2 separate regions of the Homo sapiens genome follow, and region 2 is linked to region 1. The links come from fine-mapping of genetic effects on gene expression. Tissue or cell type: testis. Region 1 holds a variant in brackets; the other region holds the start of a gene. All regions are shown on one strand. Distances are between the middles of the regions.

What was found. PIP is the estimated chance that this variant, and not a neighbour inherited with it, causes the effect. A credible set is the group of variants that fine-mapping cannot tell apart.
Region 2: it holds the start of ALDH3A1, and the variant in region 1 is the best candidate, but not a certain one, in a credible set for the expression of ALDH3A1 in testis (GTEx, PIP 0.85).

What each region holds. Positions count from the first base shown.
Region 1 is chr17:19,487,579-19,491,740 of GRCh38, reverse strand. No RefSeq gene overlaps it. Among named protein-coding and RNA genes, the nearest start is that of TRW-CCA2-1, 19 kb to the left of the region's middle. The variant C/T (reference allele first, on the strand shown) is at 2,532.
Region 2 is chr17:19,746,593-19,750,754 of GRCh38, reverse strand. ALDH3A1 (aldehyde dehydrogenase 3 family member A1) reads left to right here and starts at 2,457. Exons shown (of 11, transcript NM_000691.5): 1 at 2,457-2,496. RefSeq lists an enhancer at 221-500.

The DNA.
Region 1 (4,162 bases):
AATCATTCATTCCTTTTTGTTTGGTTCTTATCTCTTGTATAAAGGGATCCCCTATGAGCTGAGCACTCTTCTGTAAGAGTTAGCTTAAACTGGCCAGGTGTGGTGGCTCACGCCTGTAATCCCAGCACTTTGGGAGGCTGAGGCAGGTGGATCACCTGAGGTCAGGAGTTCAAGACCAGCCTCAACATGGAGAAACCCCGTCTCTACTAAAAATACAAAATTAGCCAGGCGTGGTGGTACGTGCCTGTAATCCCAGCTACTCAGGAGGCTGAGGCAGGAGAATCGCTTGAACCTGGGAGGTGGAGGTTGTGGTGAGCCGAGATTGCACCATTGCACTCCAGCCTGGGCAACAAGAGAGAAACTCTGTCTCAAAAAAAAAAAAAAAGAGTATAGCTTAAACAACAAAAATATTCTGCCCACATGGATAATTACTAAGTGTGACCTCAGCCACTGTGGGGATAACAGGAAACTCACTTTACACCATGTCCTAGCATCGGCCTGTGACGTAAGCCTAATTATGGCTGGGTCCTCAAGGACACTGCCTCGACAGAACACGCTAACGTGAAATTTGCATGCTGAAACCTTTACATATTCAAACCTTCCAACTAGCTCTGTGTTTCCATTCTTCGATATGAGAAGAAAACCAAGGACTATGACACATCCCAAGGAAGTGTCCATAAAAGAAGGAGATCAGCAACCTTTGCTGGGTCTCAGAAAGGTAACCCACGCCAAACTCTGTGAGGAAGATGGAGTGGCAGAGAAGGTTGCACATGTGTGGCGGGGAGTGGGATGGAGGAAAGAGCAAAATACAGCATCCTATTTTGAAATATGGAGCTATGAGACCGGGCGCAGTGGCTCACGCCTGTAATCCTAGCACTTTGGGAGGCCAAGACGGGCGGATCACGAGGTCAGGAGATCGAGACCATCCTGGCCAACATGGTGAAACCCCGTCTCTACTAAAAATACAAAAAATTAGCTGGGTGTGGTGGCGGGCGCCTGTAGTCCCATCTACTCCTGCCTGTAATCCCTGATACTTGGGGGGCTGAGGCAGGAGAATGGCATCAACCCGGGAGGCGGAGCTTGCAGTGAGCCGAGATCGCACTACTGCACTCTAGCCTGGGCGACAGAGCAAGACTCTGTCTCAAAAAAAAAAAGAAAGAAAGAAATATGGAGCTATGTACCAAAAGAATCTGCAAGGAAGGCCGGGTGTGGTGGCTCACACCCGTAATCCTAGCACTTTGGGAAGCCGAGGCGGGTGGATCACGAGATCAGGAGTTTGAGACCAGCCTGACCAACATGGTGTAGTGGTGCAATATTGGCTCACTGCAGCTTCCACCTCCTGAGTTCAAGCAATTCTCCTGCCTCAGCCCCCCAAGTATCAGGGACTACAGGCAGGCATCACCACCCCCAGCTAATTTTTGTATTTTTAGTAGAGACGGGGTTTCACCATGTTTGTCAGGCTGTTCTCTAACTCCTGACTTTAGGTGATCCACCCACCTTGGCCTTCCAAAGTGCTGGGATTACAGGCATGAGCCACCACGCCCGGCCGACATTTTTTTCTTTATAAATTATCCAGTCTCAGGTGTTCATTTATAGCAACACAGGCCAAGACAGCCCCTATTCAGAAATGTTTCCCATTGTTCTTCCCCAGCTTCATTTGAATCTCAGGGGAGTGGAAGTGCAGACATGGGTGCAGACAAAACACACACAGAGAGGGAAAAGCATCAAGAGTTTGGGAGATGGAAGACGATTCAGTGCTGTTCTTGCCAGTGACTTTCCCGTGTGGCAGGGCGTTCAGCTCCCTGCTCTGCTTTCGTCTTTTGTCATACTTATTTGGTGGCTTCGATCCATCCATTCTAAGATTTGTTCTCCCTGTGCCATTTGCTGTCCAGTCATCATTTGTGCTGCTCGCCTGGCGGGATTTTTCTCCGTCTCTTACTCTGGTGGAGTATTTAGCCAGACCCTGTTCCATGTTGAGCCGTGGGGGGTTCAGGAGGGGAGCATTTGGGCTAAGAGCCTGCAGCACACCAAGAGCTGTGGGGCTTTCCCTTCAAGCATCCGGAAAGGAAGTGCTGGGATTAGGCTGGAGCCCATCAGGCCCAGAGGCCAGAGACAGGAGGGGAGGCATCATTGCCCAGTGTATCAGTCACACCTGCTGTCCCCAACCCTCACCCAGCAGGGGTTTGGTGCTGCTCACTCTTGTTAACACCCACATTAGTAGCCTGTGCCTGTGCCACGGATTCCTGCTGGCAGGGGGAGGGGCAGGCAAGGCTGTCCCACGGCATGGCTGAGCAGAGCCCAGAGCAGAACAGAACTCTCTCTCTCTCTCTTTCTCTCTCTCTCTCTCTCTCTTTCTCTCTCTCTCTTTCTCTCTCTCTCTCTCTCTATATATATATTTTTTGAGATGGAGTCTCGCTCTGTCGCCCAGGCTGGAGTGCAGTGGCGCGATCTCTGCTCACTGCAAGCTCCGCCACCCGGGTTCACGCCATTCTCCTGCCTCAGCCTCCCGAGTAGCTGGGACTACAGGCGCC[C/T]GCCACCACGCCCGGCTAATTTTTTTGTGTTTTTAGTAGAGATGGGGTTTCACCTTGTTAGCCAGGATGGTCTCGATCTCCTGACATTGTGATCCGCCCACGTCGGCCTCCCAAAGTGCTGGGATTACAGGCATGAGCCACTGCGCCCGGCCAGAACTCTATATTTGTTTTTTAGAGATGTGGTCTTGCTATCTATATCGTCCAGGCTGGAATGCAGTGGCTACTCACAGGCATGATCACAGATCGCAGCTCACTGAAGCCTTGAACTCCTGGGCTCAAGTGATCCTCCTGCCTCAGCCTCCTGAGTAGCTGGGACTACAGCACTTACCACCATGCCTGGCTCTAATATAATAAATGTTGGCGGCAGCTCTGACAAGTGCTGGAGCGGCTCCTAGCCCCACCCTCCCAGAACACAAGGGCGACTCTGTGGCCTTTTCCTTGCTCTAAGCCTCAGCCTTCGGTCTACCTGACCACCATGCCTGCTCCCAGAAGCCATGTTCTAAGCTCTCCTCTGGCGAGGTGCCTCCCAGGCTCAAGCAGCTTCCAAGTCCCCATTGACTCTGGTCCAAGTCTCAAACACATCCATAGCCCTGGGTTTGCTGGCTGGGGTTTCATGGCACTGCCTGGCCTCTCCCTCCCAGTCTGGCTTCCCTTTTCCTGCGGCCCACCACTCTCCCTGCATCTGTCACACTCGTCTCCATACACCCCTGCTGAGACCCCTTCTCTCCTGGCCCACCAGTCAGAATGGAAGTTCTACTGTCCTCCAACTTTTGAATTCCAACCTGGCCTTTACTCAAGCCCACGCCGGGGAGCTTTTCCTGACTAGGAACTCCTTGAGCCTAGCCTTATACCGAGAATTCCCTGCGACCTCCACAGACTAAGTGCTGATGTAATATGAAAGTTGTGCAGTTGTCATCCCACGGACTGTTTGTAGCTCATTGCAGGACCAGGCCCTGCTCAGCCCGAGGAGCAGTGTTGAATGGTGGGAAAATGGGTCAAGGTTTAGGACTCTGGTTTGGCTCCTCCCACTACCTACCATGTGTTCTTGGACAAATCTCTTCTTCTCTCTTGGTCGTGGTTTCTGCATCTGTAAAGTCGGGGCAGAGAGAACTGATTGAATCAGGTGTTCTTGTCAGCCTGTACGTTATAAGTACTTGGGGAGTTTCAAAAAACAAGATAAAACTGAATATCCCAACTACAACTCCAGACCATTAAAATCATTTCATAATTTTATGAGGGTAGAGCCAGACATAGTTTAAAAAATATTCCCGGCCAAGCGCAGTGGCTCACGCCTGTAATCCTAGCACTTTGGGAGGCAGAGGCAGGTGGATTACCTGAGGTCAGGAGTTCAAGACCAGCCTGGCCAACATGGTGAAACCCCATCTCTAGTAAAAATACAAAAAATTAGCCGGGCATGGTGGCAGGCGCCTGTAGTCCCAGCTCCTCGGGAGGCTGAGACACGAGAATCGCTTGAACTGGGGAGGCGGAGGTTGAAGTGAGCCGAGATTGTGCCACTGCACCCCAGCCTGGACAACAGAGTGAGACTCCATCAAAAAAAAAAAAAAAGAAAGAAAAAGAAAAAATGTTCCCAGGTGATTCCAGTATGCAGCTAGCTTTGTGAACTATGAGAA
Region 2 (4,162 bases), 260 kb before region 1:
AGATGAATTGAGCCCAGGAGTTTGAGACCAGCCTGGGCAACATAATGAGACCCATCTCTACAAAACATTTAAAAATTAGCCAGGCATGGTGGTGGGTTCCTGTAGTCACAAGGTGGGAGGATCGCTTGAGCACCGGAATTCAAAGCTGCAGTGAGCCGTGATGGCACCACTGCACTCCAGCCTGGGCAACAGAGCAACACCCTGTCTCAAAAAAAAAAAAAAAAAAAGAAAAAAGAAAATCTGAAAAGCAAGTATCTGCAAGTTTCTAGCACAACCCACACTCCCACACTTTTGCCACTACTGAAACTATAACCAAAACCCAAACACGCAAACAAGGATTTTGTTCTTCGTAGATTTGAACTGCTTTTAGGCTCCTTGCTCTGACGCTTCCACCACTACTGCTGCCACTTTTGATGACACCCACACCACCTAACCTTTCCAGGATGCCCTCGGCCCGCCAGGCACTGTTCTGGTCACTTCGTGTACTCAATGCTGTGTTGCTGGCTTTTGCTAGTTGCTTCCATGGTTCTCCCAGGGGAGGGCCGCTGCCACAAGAAGTCAGCTCCGAATGGCCTTCGGCCTTGCATTCTGCCCTCTACTCAAGATCCAAATTCCCAGGAGAGTCAGGGAGGCCTCATGGGGAGCCCACCCCAACCCATGGCTGGCCTGGAGAAGGCACCTGGTTGATCATCTCACCAAGTAGGAAGGGGTTGCCTGCAAAGATAATCAGCTGCTGCCACCAGAAAAGGGGAGAGGCTGGCACAGGCTCGGTCTTCTCCCCTCTCAGGAGGCACCCCACTTTGCACCTACCACCCAGTCCAGCCCCTGCACAGGTGCGAGGTCCTGCAGATGCTTCTTTCTGCTGTTTCTGGAATGTTTCCCATTCTGTTAGTCTTATTTGGGGGTCTCGTCATTTCTTGCCTGCATTGCTGGAAGCTGCAGCCTTTGGGCTAGACCTTTCTCACACTGTGCCCTGTCCAGGGGGTTCTCTAAAACAAAAAATAGCAGACATTTGTCTGTCTGATAATCTCCTCAGCGCCCTGCACCCCCACAGCCAGCCTGGCCCACAGGCCTCCGTGAGCCCCCGCCCCAGGAGAGTCATTCACCTCCACACCTCCTGCTGGCAACAGTGGACACATCGCACTTTTTCGTGACATAACGTTCCCAGCCTCTGTGCCTTTGCTTCTGCTCTTCCAGCCCCCTTGCTGTTCCTTGCCCAAATGCTTCTCACTCAGCTCAGATGATGTTCCCTCCCACGGACTCTCACCCCAGCCCCTCTAGCATCCTCTGCCTACCTGGTTACTACAGTGTTCACATTATTTTGAAATTTCCTGTTTATTTTGTCAGTCAATAAATATTTATTGAGCATCTACTATAAATGCTGTATGGAGGTTACAGCAGTGAACAAATCAAATTCTAGCTGTCAGGAGTTAAGGGACAGGTAGCAAACAAGATATAAACGCTCCAGAGAAAAAATAATGGAGGAAGACGACAGCATTGTGCTATTTTCCACAGCACATTGGAGCGTAGCCGTGTGGGTGGATGTAGGGGAAGGGGGCTCCAGGTGGAGAGAAGCAGGAGGGCCAGAGCACATCCTCAGGACTCGTAGGCCAGGACCGGAACCTTGTGTTTTCCTCGAATGAAATGGGAAGCAGGGACCCCATGCTGGTAAGCAGTCTGCCTGCAGGCGGGTGAGGGTGGCGGGAAGCGCCTGGTGAGAGGGGCCGAGAGTCTGTTCCACACCTGCCTCCTCCCCACAGCGTGGTGCAGAGCAGGAGCCCAGCGAACATTGATCAGACAGCGTGGGAACGGCTTTTCCAGACTCCTTCCTTCCCAAGCATCTCTGGTTTTCGGTGACCACACAGACCCTTGGCCCTCTTCTCAGCTATTCAACGAGAGAGCAGATTTATGGATTGGAGACCCCCATCAAAAGTCCCCAGCCTGTGGCTCCCCAGGGTTAGGATCTCTGACTCAATGGGGCCCTGTGCACACTGGGGGATGTGAAGGGCCCGGGGCAGCGGTGGCTGGGGGTGCGTTTCGGGGGAGCTGCATGCTCTCACTGTGGTTCGTGGCTGAGCCCTGCCGATCTTATGTAACCAGAGAACTCAGAGAACCGCATCTGGCAGCGGCAAGTCTGGAAAGCTGGAAGAGCTCCATGCCAGGCTGAATCAATCAGCAGCCCCCACGCCCAGGGCAAACATAGGCTCTTTTGAAGATTGGAGATGTGCCCTGCCCAAGCCTTCAGAAACATTCTCGCATTTCAGAAGTGAACAAAAGCAAACAGCCCGGGACCTAATCCCCAAAACCTGGGCTGTAGGGAGCAGAGGTCCAGAGGACGCCACACCCCACATTTGAATATTTTTTTTTCTTGTCACGCAAACTTCCTGGGCAGGAACTCCAAGGGCTCAATGGACGGGAAGCAGGGTCCTTAAATACGTCCCCTCTTGGCTCTTGCCGTTCCAGGAGCCCCAGTTACCGGGAGAGGCTGTGTCAAAGGTAATCCTCTTCCCTGCATTCCTTATTTTTTCTCTTGTCTAGGTGGAGTCTGCACTCAGAGCCGGGGCCCTAAGTGTCAAGAGTCCTACATCATCTCTCCAGGGGGTCCCTGCCTCTGGGACCATCATCTCTGGAGCATCCTCCTGGACCTCTGGCAGCTCTGCCATCCCCCAAACCAGGAGGCAGAGGTCCCAGGGATCCGCGGAGCAGGGACACCAAGGTGGCCGTGGAGTGAGAGGCCCTGATGGGCCGTCAGACTCCATGACTGGAAGGAAGGCAGCAGAGCCGAGTGCTAAAGGCATGAGCTGCTGACAGAGATGCATGTGGGTTCAAACCCTGACATGCCACCTGCTAACTGTGAGATCAGATACAGCATTAAACGTTTCTCAGTCTCCCTTTCCTCATCTGTAAAATGCACTCATAACCGTTTCTTCTTCATGGGCATCACTACAGAGCTTTTGTGAGGATGGAAGGCAATGAGGAGGGGAGGAGGTGTCACTGGGGGGCAAAGTCAACACTGGCACAGGTGAGAGGAGCGGGGTGCAGGAATGTGGGGTGTGAGGCGACGGGCTCTGGGGAGGCCCCCAGTGCATGCTGCAGCAGCTCCCATTTGGGTGCAGCTGCGACGTGATGGTGTCCACTCATCTCTGTGAAGTGGCACCTTTGTTAACCTGTCTCTCGGGGAAGTCCTGGGAAGGCCGTCCAGCCCAGAGACCACAGTTCCAAGTGGCGATGCTGGGGTGCAAGGCCAATCCCGTCCCACGCTCACCAGGCTCTTCCCACCTGGGCTGCCTGCCTTGGTTTGACCGTACAAGGCTCGGGAGAGAAGCGGGACCTTCTCTCCTGGGTTGTGGTCAGCAGGAGGGGCCTGGCCCATGGGACTGAGGAGGTCCCAGTGAGGGGGCTTTCCCAGCCTCCTATCAGAACATAGGGAGGGACCATGGAAGGGCCAGGCTTAGAGCACCCTCAATGCCAGCAGGTCCCTCCTCCCTGTGCAGAAAGCCTGGGATTAGGGGTCAGCCTATGGGGAGGGGAGGCAGAGGAAGGATTGGAAGCCACTCGCTGGAATGTAGGCAGGACCATATATCTATATACAATATAATTATATATTACATATGATATATAGGGTTTTTTAAAAAAATGGAAATACCCTATTTCTGCTGATGTTAAAAGTTATGCCGGGTCTGCAAGTGGGCTGAGTATCTCAGGAAGGGGAGTAAGGAACTGGTAACAGTGGCCCCTCTGTGGGGCAGCACCTGACAGCTGATGGAGCAGGGAGGAGGGAGGCAGACTTTTTTCTGTGCCCCTTTGCTATATTTTACATTTTGTTTCATGAGCATGTAGTGCCTATCTTAAAACGCACCAAAATTTAAAAAATACAAGCTCATTGCAAAAAGTCAAACATTGCATAAGAGGAAAACAGATCATCAATAATTCCACCCCCATCAGTTGTCTCATCGTGTCGGGGGCTACCGTTCTAGTCCTTTCTTGCATGTTAGAGCGTGCACGCCCACACACACACGCACACGCGCGCACACACACGCACATGCACACACACGCACGCACACACACACGCACATGCACACACACGCACACACACACATGCACACACACGCACACGCACACACACACACGCACACACACACATGCACACGCCTGGTACATC